2 linked regions of the Homo sapiens genome follow. The protein of the gene in region 2 interacts with the protein of the main gene of each other region in a pairwise test. Each region holds a gene or a part of one and is shown on either strand. Other genes may lie near its edges.

Region 1 (4,270 bases), on a different chromosome or scaffold from region 2:
GTCCGGAGTCCTGTGGCGCGATCTCGGCTCACTGTAAGCTCCGCCTCCCTGGGTTCACGCCATTCTCCTGCCTCAGGCTCCCGAGTAGCTGGGACTACAGGCGCCTGCCACCATGCCTGGCTAATTTTTTGTATTTTTAGTACAGACGGGGTTTCACCATGTTAGCCAGGATGGTCTCGATCTCCTGACCTCATGATCCACCCGCCTCTGCCTCCCAAAGGGGTGGGATTACAAGTGTGAGCCACCGCGCCCGGCCTAAGGTCACTTTTTTTTTTTTTTTTTAAGACAGAGTTTTGCTCTTGTTGCTCAGACTGGAGTACAATTGCGTGATCTCAGCTCACTGCAACCTCCGCCTCCCAGGTTCAAGCAATTCTCCTGCCTCCCAAGTAGCTGGGATTACAGGCATGCACCACCACACCCGGCTAATTTTTTGTATTTAGTAGAGACGGGGTTTCACCATGTTGGTCAGGCTGGTCTGGAACTCCTGACCTCAGGTGATCCACCTGCCTCAGCTTCCCAAAGTTCTGGGATTACAGGCATTGAGCTACTGTGCTCAACCTGAGGTCATGTATTTTTAATTCATAACTTTTACAAATATTTACTGGATGACTGCCATGCCAGGCATTTTGAGGAATTCTTGGCTACTGTCTGACCACCTGAATCCTTGGAGCCGAAGAGGAGCGAGGAGCAGTGTTCACTCTTGGAGGAAATGGGATATTTCCTCCGGCCCCTTGATTCTGCTCTCCCTTTTCTTTTCTTTTCTTTTCTTTCTTTTTTTTTTTGAGACGGAGTTTCGCTCTTGTTGCCCAGGCTGGAATGCAATGGTGCGATCTCGGCTCACCACAACCTCCGCCTCCCAGGTTCAAGCAATTCTCCTGCCTCAGCCTCCCAAAGTAGCTGGGATTAAAGACATGCGCCACCACACCCGGCTAATTTTGTATGTTTAGTAGAGATGGGGTTTCTCCGTGTTGATCAGGCTGGTCTCGAACTCCCGACCTCAGGCGATCCGCCCGCCTCGGCCTCCCAAAGTTCTGGGATTACAGGCGTGAGCCACCGCGCCCGGCCTTTTTTCTTTTCTTTCGTTCTTTTTGTTTATTTTTGTTTTGTTTTGTTTTGTTTGGTATAGAAGTGTTGGAACGTACACCTCTTTCTTAAACCATCCTGACAAAGGGAAAGGGAAAAATACATTTCCCGTGAGGCGTTGTGACTAGAACAGCTGGAGGTGGACGGCAGAGTGCCGCGACGACTGCCAGGAGTTGTAGTTCTCCCCGGCCGCGTCACTGCGGTGTCGCCCACCCTTCTTCCCCGGGCAGGCCGCGGTTTCCTTTGTGGACGTGGCGAGGAGTGCCCGCGGCACCCCGTGCACTCATTGGCCCCGCCCCGTGAGACGCTCGTGCGAGCTCATTGGGCGGGGGGCGGGGCTCTGCGCTGCCAGAGGCGGGGCCTGACTGGAGAGCGGCCGAATTGGGCACATTTGCGGGAACGCAGAGCGGAGCGTGGAGAGCGGAGCGAAGCTGGATAACAGGGTAAAGGGAGTGGGTGGGGGGCCTCTGTCCAGGGAGGGCGGCTCGGGTCGAGGACCAGGGTCCGGACTGGGAGCAATGACGGGGAGCCTGCCTGACCTCTCGCTGGCCACAACTATGCCCTGCACCTTGCGTGGGATGTGCGCCACGTCTGTCTCTGTAATTCCCCCTGGCAGGTCTGGGACCCCCCTGAGACTCCGTCAGAAGATTCGGTCCTCCCCATAGGTGGCTTTACCTCTAAGCATCCCGCCCTCTTTTCCCCCATCGCCCGCCCTTTTTGAGCCCGAAAGCTTGCAGCCAACTTCCAACTCCCTGTCCTGTCCTAGGTAACCCCTCCACCCCGCCATTCTCCTATCCCGTGTCTGTCCCCATCCCTGTGACCCCTGACCCCTGGCCTTTGCCACTCCCCAGGGACCGATGATGTGGCGACCATCAGTTCTGCTGCTTCTGTTGCTACTGAGGCACGGGGCCCAGGGGAAGCCATCCCCAGACGCAGGCCCTCATGGCCAGGGGAGGGTGCACCAGGCGGCCCCCCTGAGCGACGCTCCCCATGATGACGCCCACGGGAACTTCCAGTACGACCATGAGGCTTTCCTGGGACGGGAAGTGGCCAAGGAATTCGACCAACTCACCCCAGAGGAAAGCCAGGCCCGTCTGGGGTAAGAGAGACATTCGGTTGGGGCGTGTCCAGAGGTGGGGCTTAGGAGAGAGACGCGGGGGTATCGACAGGGGTCAGAGAAATGGCGTGGACTGAACTTCATTTCTTTGTGAGAAATGAAATTCTACCTTCTATCCTTGGGAAAAAGAAATTAAGTTAAAATTGAGGCCTAAAGAGGACCTTTGAGACCGGGCGTGGTGGCTCATGCCTGTAATCCCAGCACTTTGGGAGGCCAAGGCAGGCCGATCACTTGAGGTCAGGAGTTCGAGAACAGCCTGGCCAACATGGTGAAATCCCGTCTCTACTAAAAATACAAAATTAGGCAGGCGTGGTGGTGGGCACCTGTAATCCCAGCTACTCGGGAGGCTGAGGCAGGAGAATCGCTTGAACCTGGGAGGTGGAGGTTGCAGTGAGCCAAAATTGCACCACTGCCCTCCAGTCAGGGCGACAAAGTGAGACTCCGTCTAAAAAACAACAACAACAATAAAAAAGAGGACCTTTGAGGGCAGCAAAATCTGGGTTAGATTCTGCCCCCTAAGCGCTCCTTATTCTTTTGTCCCAGACATCTCCCCTCCCCAAGCCTCAGTTTCCTGCTCTGTAAATGGCAGGGACTGGTGTGGAAAATGAGGTTTGGCCTTTAAGGAGCCCGGCCAGTGCAGGAGAGTGGCAGAGCCCTGAGTTTCAGGGTGAGCTGGGTGGAATGGAGCCCTGTCCACCCTCTCCGTCCAGGCCTGAGCGCAGGGGGGCGCGATGGGAGCAGCCGCCTTCTTCTGTGCATCCTCCTGACACTGATTGAGCCTGCAAAGGTTTATCGAGCACCTGCTATGTGCCAGGCACTGCTCTAGGTGCTGAAGTCACAACAGCTAACACATCTGTCCTCCTGAAGTTTACACTGTGGTGAGGGAAACAGCAAGAAGTCAATAAGTAGAAAGTGGATCAAATAGAGATAAATGCATCCAAGAAAGATAAAGCAAGAGAGTCAGAAAGTGTGGAGGGGAGAGGTTGTTGGTGGGGGGGAGTTGCAATTTTTATTTATTTATTTATTTATTTATTTACTTATTGAGATGGAGTCTCGCTCTGTCACCCAGGCTGGAGTGCAGTGGTGCGATCTCGGCTCACTGCAACCTCCACCTCCTGGGCTCAAGCAATTGTCCTGTCTCAGCCTCCCAAGTAGCTGGGATTACAGGCGCTAGCCACCACGCCCAGCTAATTTTGTATTTTTATTTTTTATTTTTATTTTTGTTGTTGTTGTTTTTGAGATGGAGTCTCGCTCTGTCACCCAGGCTGGAGTGCAGTGACGTGATCTCGGCTCAGTGGAACCTCCGCCTCCCGGGTTCAACCAGTTGTTCTGCCTCGTACTCCCTAGTAGCTAGAGTCCTAGCTACAAGTGAACGCTACAAGTCCTAGCTACAAGTGAACGCCTCCACATCCAGCAAAGTTTTTTTTCTTTCCTTTTTTTTTTTTGGAGACAGAGTGAGACTCTGTCTCCCGGGCTAGAGTGCAGTGGCGTGATCTCAGCTCATGCAACCTCTGCCTCCCAGGTTCAAGCAATTCTCCTGCCTCAGCCTTCCGAGTAGCTGGGACTATGGGTGCACGCCCACACGCCCAGCTAATTTTTTTTTTTTTTTTTGTATTTTAGTAGAGATGGGGTTTCACTGTGTTGCCCAGGCTGGTCTCGAGCTCCTGAGCTCAGGCAATCCGCCCGCCTTGGCCTCCCAAAGTGCTGGAATTAATGCGTGAGCCACAGCACCCAGCCCAGGCCCAGGTAATTTTTCTTTTTTTTCTTTTTTTTTTTTTTTTGAGACGGAGTTTTGCTCTTGTTGCCCAGGCTGGAGTGCAGTGGCGCAATCTCGGCTCACCACAACCTCCGCCTCCTGGGTTCAAGTGATTCTCCTGCCTCAGCCTTCCGAGTAGCTGGGATTACAGGCATGCACCACCATGCCCGGCTAATTTTGTATTTTTAGTAGAGATGGGGTTTCTCCATGTTGGTCAGGCTGGTATCGACCTCCTGACCTCAGGTGATCTGCCCACCTCGGCCTCCCGAAGTGCTGGGATTATAGGCATGAGCCACCGCACCCGGCTGGAGCTG
Region 2 (3,500 bases):
CCTCCACTAGACTGCAGACTCTCTGTCCTTGGGCTGTGCGCCCCTTGAGCAAGGCTGCTGCTCTCAGTGAACTCCCACACATGCACACCCTCAACCTTGTCCCTGCCCACCTTGGACTCATGGTTGGCAGGTTCCATCCTTCTACCCCTCCCCAAAATACTCCCCCATCACCCCATCACAACTCGAGGAGCATTCCACTGTTCTGTCATTTACTGAGGCCTGCCACTAGCTGGGGTGAGAAGGCAGCTAGGGTCCTGTGTTTTAGCTGCAGAAGTTAGAACTCTGGGAGTTCAAGCACCTTCCCACCAAGATCACAAGACACATGAACTGGGACTGCTTGGCCTGAAGCCCTTGTCCACTGTCATTCCCCTTTTGTCCCCACCACCTCTGAAATGACATCAGCCACCTCCTCCTAGAGGCCTTCCCAGTTACCTCTACCCAGGTGAGGCCATCAGCCCTTCCTGCATCTTGAAACCCTCACAGTCCTGCCACTATTTCACCTAGGGTGGCCCCAGCCCACAGAGAGCATGGTTCCTTCATGGAGGGGTCAGGATCCCCCATATCCCTGTCTCACTTGCATCCCCCTGCACCCTGCAAAGCCACTGTGGGGACTGGACTTGCCTCCTCACGATGGATGCGGGACAGGTAGTTCACAAACAGGTTCTCAGGGCCTGGAGGCTGCCAAGAGGAGAAGCCCCTGGTGAGCAGGCGTCCTCCCCACAACCCGTGGCCCCGGCAGCTGTCCCTTCCATGCTCCCATCCTTACATCGGCATCATCCATGGCGGTGCCAGTGGTGGTGCCGTCCACAGTGGGGCTGGCACTGCTGGCACTGTCGTGGTCCAAAGTGACAATGAGCACCTGGGCAGCCTCCTCCACCAGGGGTTCCCGGTAGTCAGAGAAGAGCAGGTGGTTGTAGGGGATCCCGTAGCCCACAGGGTCATAGGCACACACGGTGTTGAGGAGGGAGGTGAAGAGGGGCAGGGCATGTCTGCAGCAGGAGAGGGACAAGGCTGCAGAGGCTGCACTGGGGCCCAGCCCCCTGGCCACACCTCTCTGGCCACGTGGGAAGGTCAGCCTCATTCAACAAGCATTTTAGCACCACGTCAGGGAGTGGCTTGGAAAGAGTGGGTGTGGGAAGCCCAGAGCCATGATTAGGACACATTCATACCCCTTAGGGTCTTAAGGGGCAGATACCCTCCCTTGGGTCCTCAGAGATGGGAATGGAGGCCTGTGGAGAAGGTGGGCTTCCCCTCAGGGAGCAGAGCCCACGCTCAGCCAACCAGCTCCCAAGCCACAGAATGACTCCACTCAGACTCAAGAGATGTCAGGGTTCAAGCTGCTCAGCTTACAGATGAGGAAGCTGAGACCCAGAGAGGTTAAGTGAGGGACAAAGGGTGGCAGTTTGCCTGATAAGGCTGGTGAGAAAGAAAACTCTGGCCAGCCTCGGACTGTGGCTGGTGGAGGGGGTCGCCTGGCTCCCTTCTCTTCTGGAGTAGGGTGGAAGGTTGAACAGAAGGCTAGGAAACCTGAAGAATAAGGCGTGTCATGTAGGGACCAGAGTCTGGAAGGCGGAGGTCGACCGCCACCTGCCGGGCACAGACCCTATGCAGCCAACACAGCTCCCAGTGGGAGCTACCTGCTCAAATACTCAACTCTGCCACGTGGCACGTGTGACACCCTCCCCCCACCCCGTGCTCACGTGTCCCCCACAGTCCATGAGTGCCCCATGTGGGCTGGGCCTCCCTGCCCTTCGAGGTATTTGTCACACACTCCCCGACCCGGTCTCTAAGCTGCAGAGTCCCACACAGCAGCCTCAAGCCACAAGGAGCTGTCGAGCCCTTGGAATGTGGCTGATCGGAACCAAGACAAATACACACTGGATTTTGAAAACTTAGTATGAAAAGGGGGATGTCAAACAGCTCAGTAATGTTGTATACTGATTCCATGTTAAATGCTAAAGTTTGGGGTATATTGGGTTATATGAAATATATTATTAATTATTGTATTTATTTATTTTTTTTTTTGGAAACAGAGTCTCACTCTGTCACCCAGGCTGGAGCGCAGTGGCGCAATCTCGGCTCACTGCAACCTCCGCCTCCCGGGTTCAAGCGATTCTCGTGCCTCAGCCTCCCGAGTAGCTGGGATTACAGGCACCCGCCACCAAGCCTGGCTAATTTTTGTATTTTTAGTAGAGATACGGTTTCACCATGTTGGCCAGGCTGGTCTGAAACTCCTGACCTCAGGTAATCTGCCCACGTTGGCCTCCCAAAGTGCTGGGATTACAGGTGTGAGCCACCGCGCCTGGCCCAATTTTACTTTTTAACTTTTTTAATTTTAAAATTGCACTCGTGGTTTGCATTCTATTTCTACTGGACAGGCGGCTCTTGATGGAGGACCCAGGGACGGATTACTGAGGGGCCCCCAGATTCTGTCCTGTCGAGGACTCCAAGGAGAGACGGGGCTAGTGTGAGGTGTGGCTGGTAAGTTAAAGTTCATCACCACCAGGGGGCAGCACCTCCCCTCAAACGAGACCCAGAGCTGGCGAATGGACTCAGCTCTGGATTGCCTGGAATAAGAGGGAAGAGAGCGCAGAAAGGCCAAGGGCCCTTCACCTGTTCTCCGTGGAACAAAAGAACTGAACCCATGGGTTGGTGCTGCCACTTTCCGGAGCTGGGGGCAGGTACATGGCCTCGGAGAAGCATGTCAGCAGCAGTTTCAGCAGCTCCATCCTTGTAGGAGGAAGGGGGAGGGCACCTTAGGATCCCAGTCCCCTCTTGGAGGTTCTGCCCACCCAGCCCAGCGCCCCAGCCCAGGTCCATGGAAGGAAGTTACTCCCGTTGACCCCTGTAAGGTCAAGGTCGGGTCATAGGTGAGGACGGTCTTCTGGGAAGACCCCATGGGCTTTCTGAGCTGTGCGGGGGCCCGGCCCGGGGTCCAGCTGCATTGAGGGCTCCGGGCCTGGGCGAAGCTCACCGGTTCATATCGTGGATGTAGTTAGGCTGGGGGGAGTGAGCGAAGCCCACACCAGCCTCCCAGATGTATTCACAGCTGTCCAGGGAGTGGACGTCCTCTGCCGAGTCCTGGGGACAGGCCAGGAAGAAGCCGGGTTAGGGGGTCGAGAGGTGAACAGCAGCCTGGGTCAGAACCTGGCCACCTCGAGCCTCACACAGTCCCAGGGGCAGAGACCGCCAGTTCTCCTAAAGACAGGTCCTCAAAATGGCCTGGCCCTCATGCACAAGAGCAGGAGTGAATATTCTTAGGCCTCTTGAAAGCTCATTTTTCTTCCATCTCAGACTGGTTCTTTCACTTGCTCAGTCCAGTTTGGGACAGGGAGAAAGGGAGGGAGGGGCAGGGGATTGGGTGCCCCGGGTTTGGGGGTGGGCAGAGAAGACTCAAGGTGAAGTCCATGCCACCACAGGAAGCAAGAGGGCCAGCCCTCCTGTGTCTGAGCCCCACACCCCTGGGCAAGCAAAGACAATGGGTGTCTGTGCCCAGCCAT

Evidence for each region. Proteins that work in one complex are often made in the same cells at the same time.
Region 1: the proteins of HID1 (region 2) and RCN3 interact in a two-hybrid assay, tested with the Homo sapiens proteins (one large-scale study listed by BioGRID and IntAct).

Annotation. Positions count from the first base shown.
Region 1 is NC_000019.10:49,526,533-49,530,802, forward strand, and holds the start of RCN3 (reticulocalbin-3 precursor), read left to right. Parts: upstream 1-1,470; 5' UTR 1,471-1,526; exon of another isoform or gene 1,527-1,849; intron 1,850-1,934; 5' UTR 1,935-1,940; coding exon 1,941-2,182; intron 2,183-4,270. UniProt on the Homo sapiens protein: Probable molecular chaperone assisting protein biosynthesis and transport in the endoplasmic reticulum.
Region 2 is NC_000017.11:74,959,260-74,962,759, forward strand, and holds part of HID1 (protein HID1), read right to left. Parts: intron 3,082-3,500; coding exon 2,975-3,081; intron 2,731-2,974; coding exon 2,614-2,730; intron 990-2,613; coding exon 767-989; intron 679-766; coding exon 622-678; intron 1-621. UniProt on the Homo sapiens protein: May play an important role in the development of cancers in a broad range of tissues.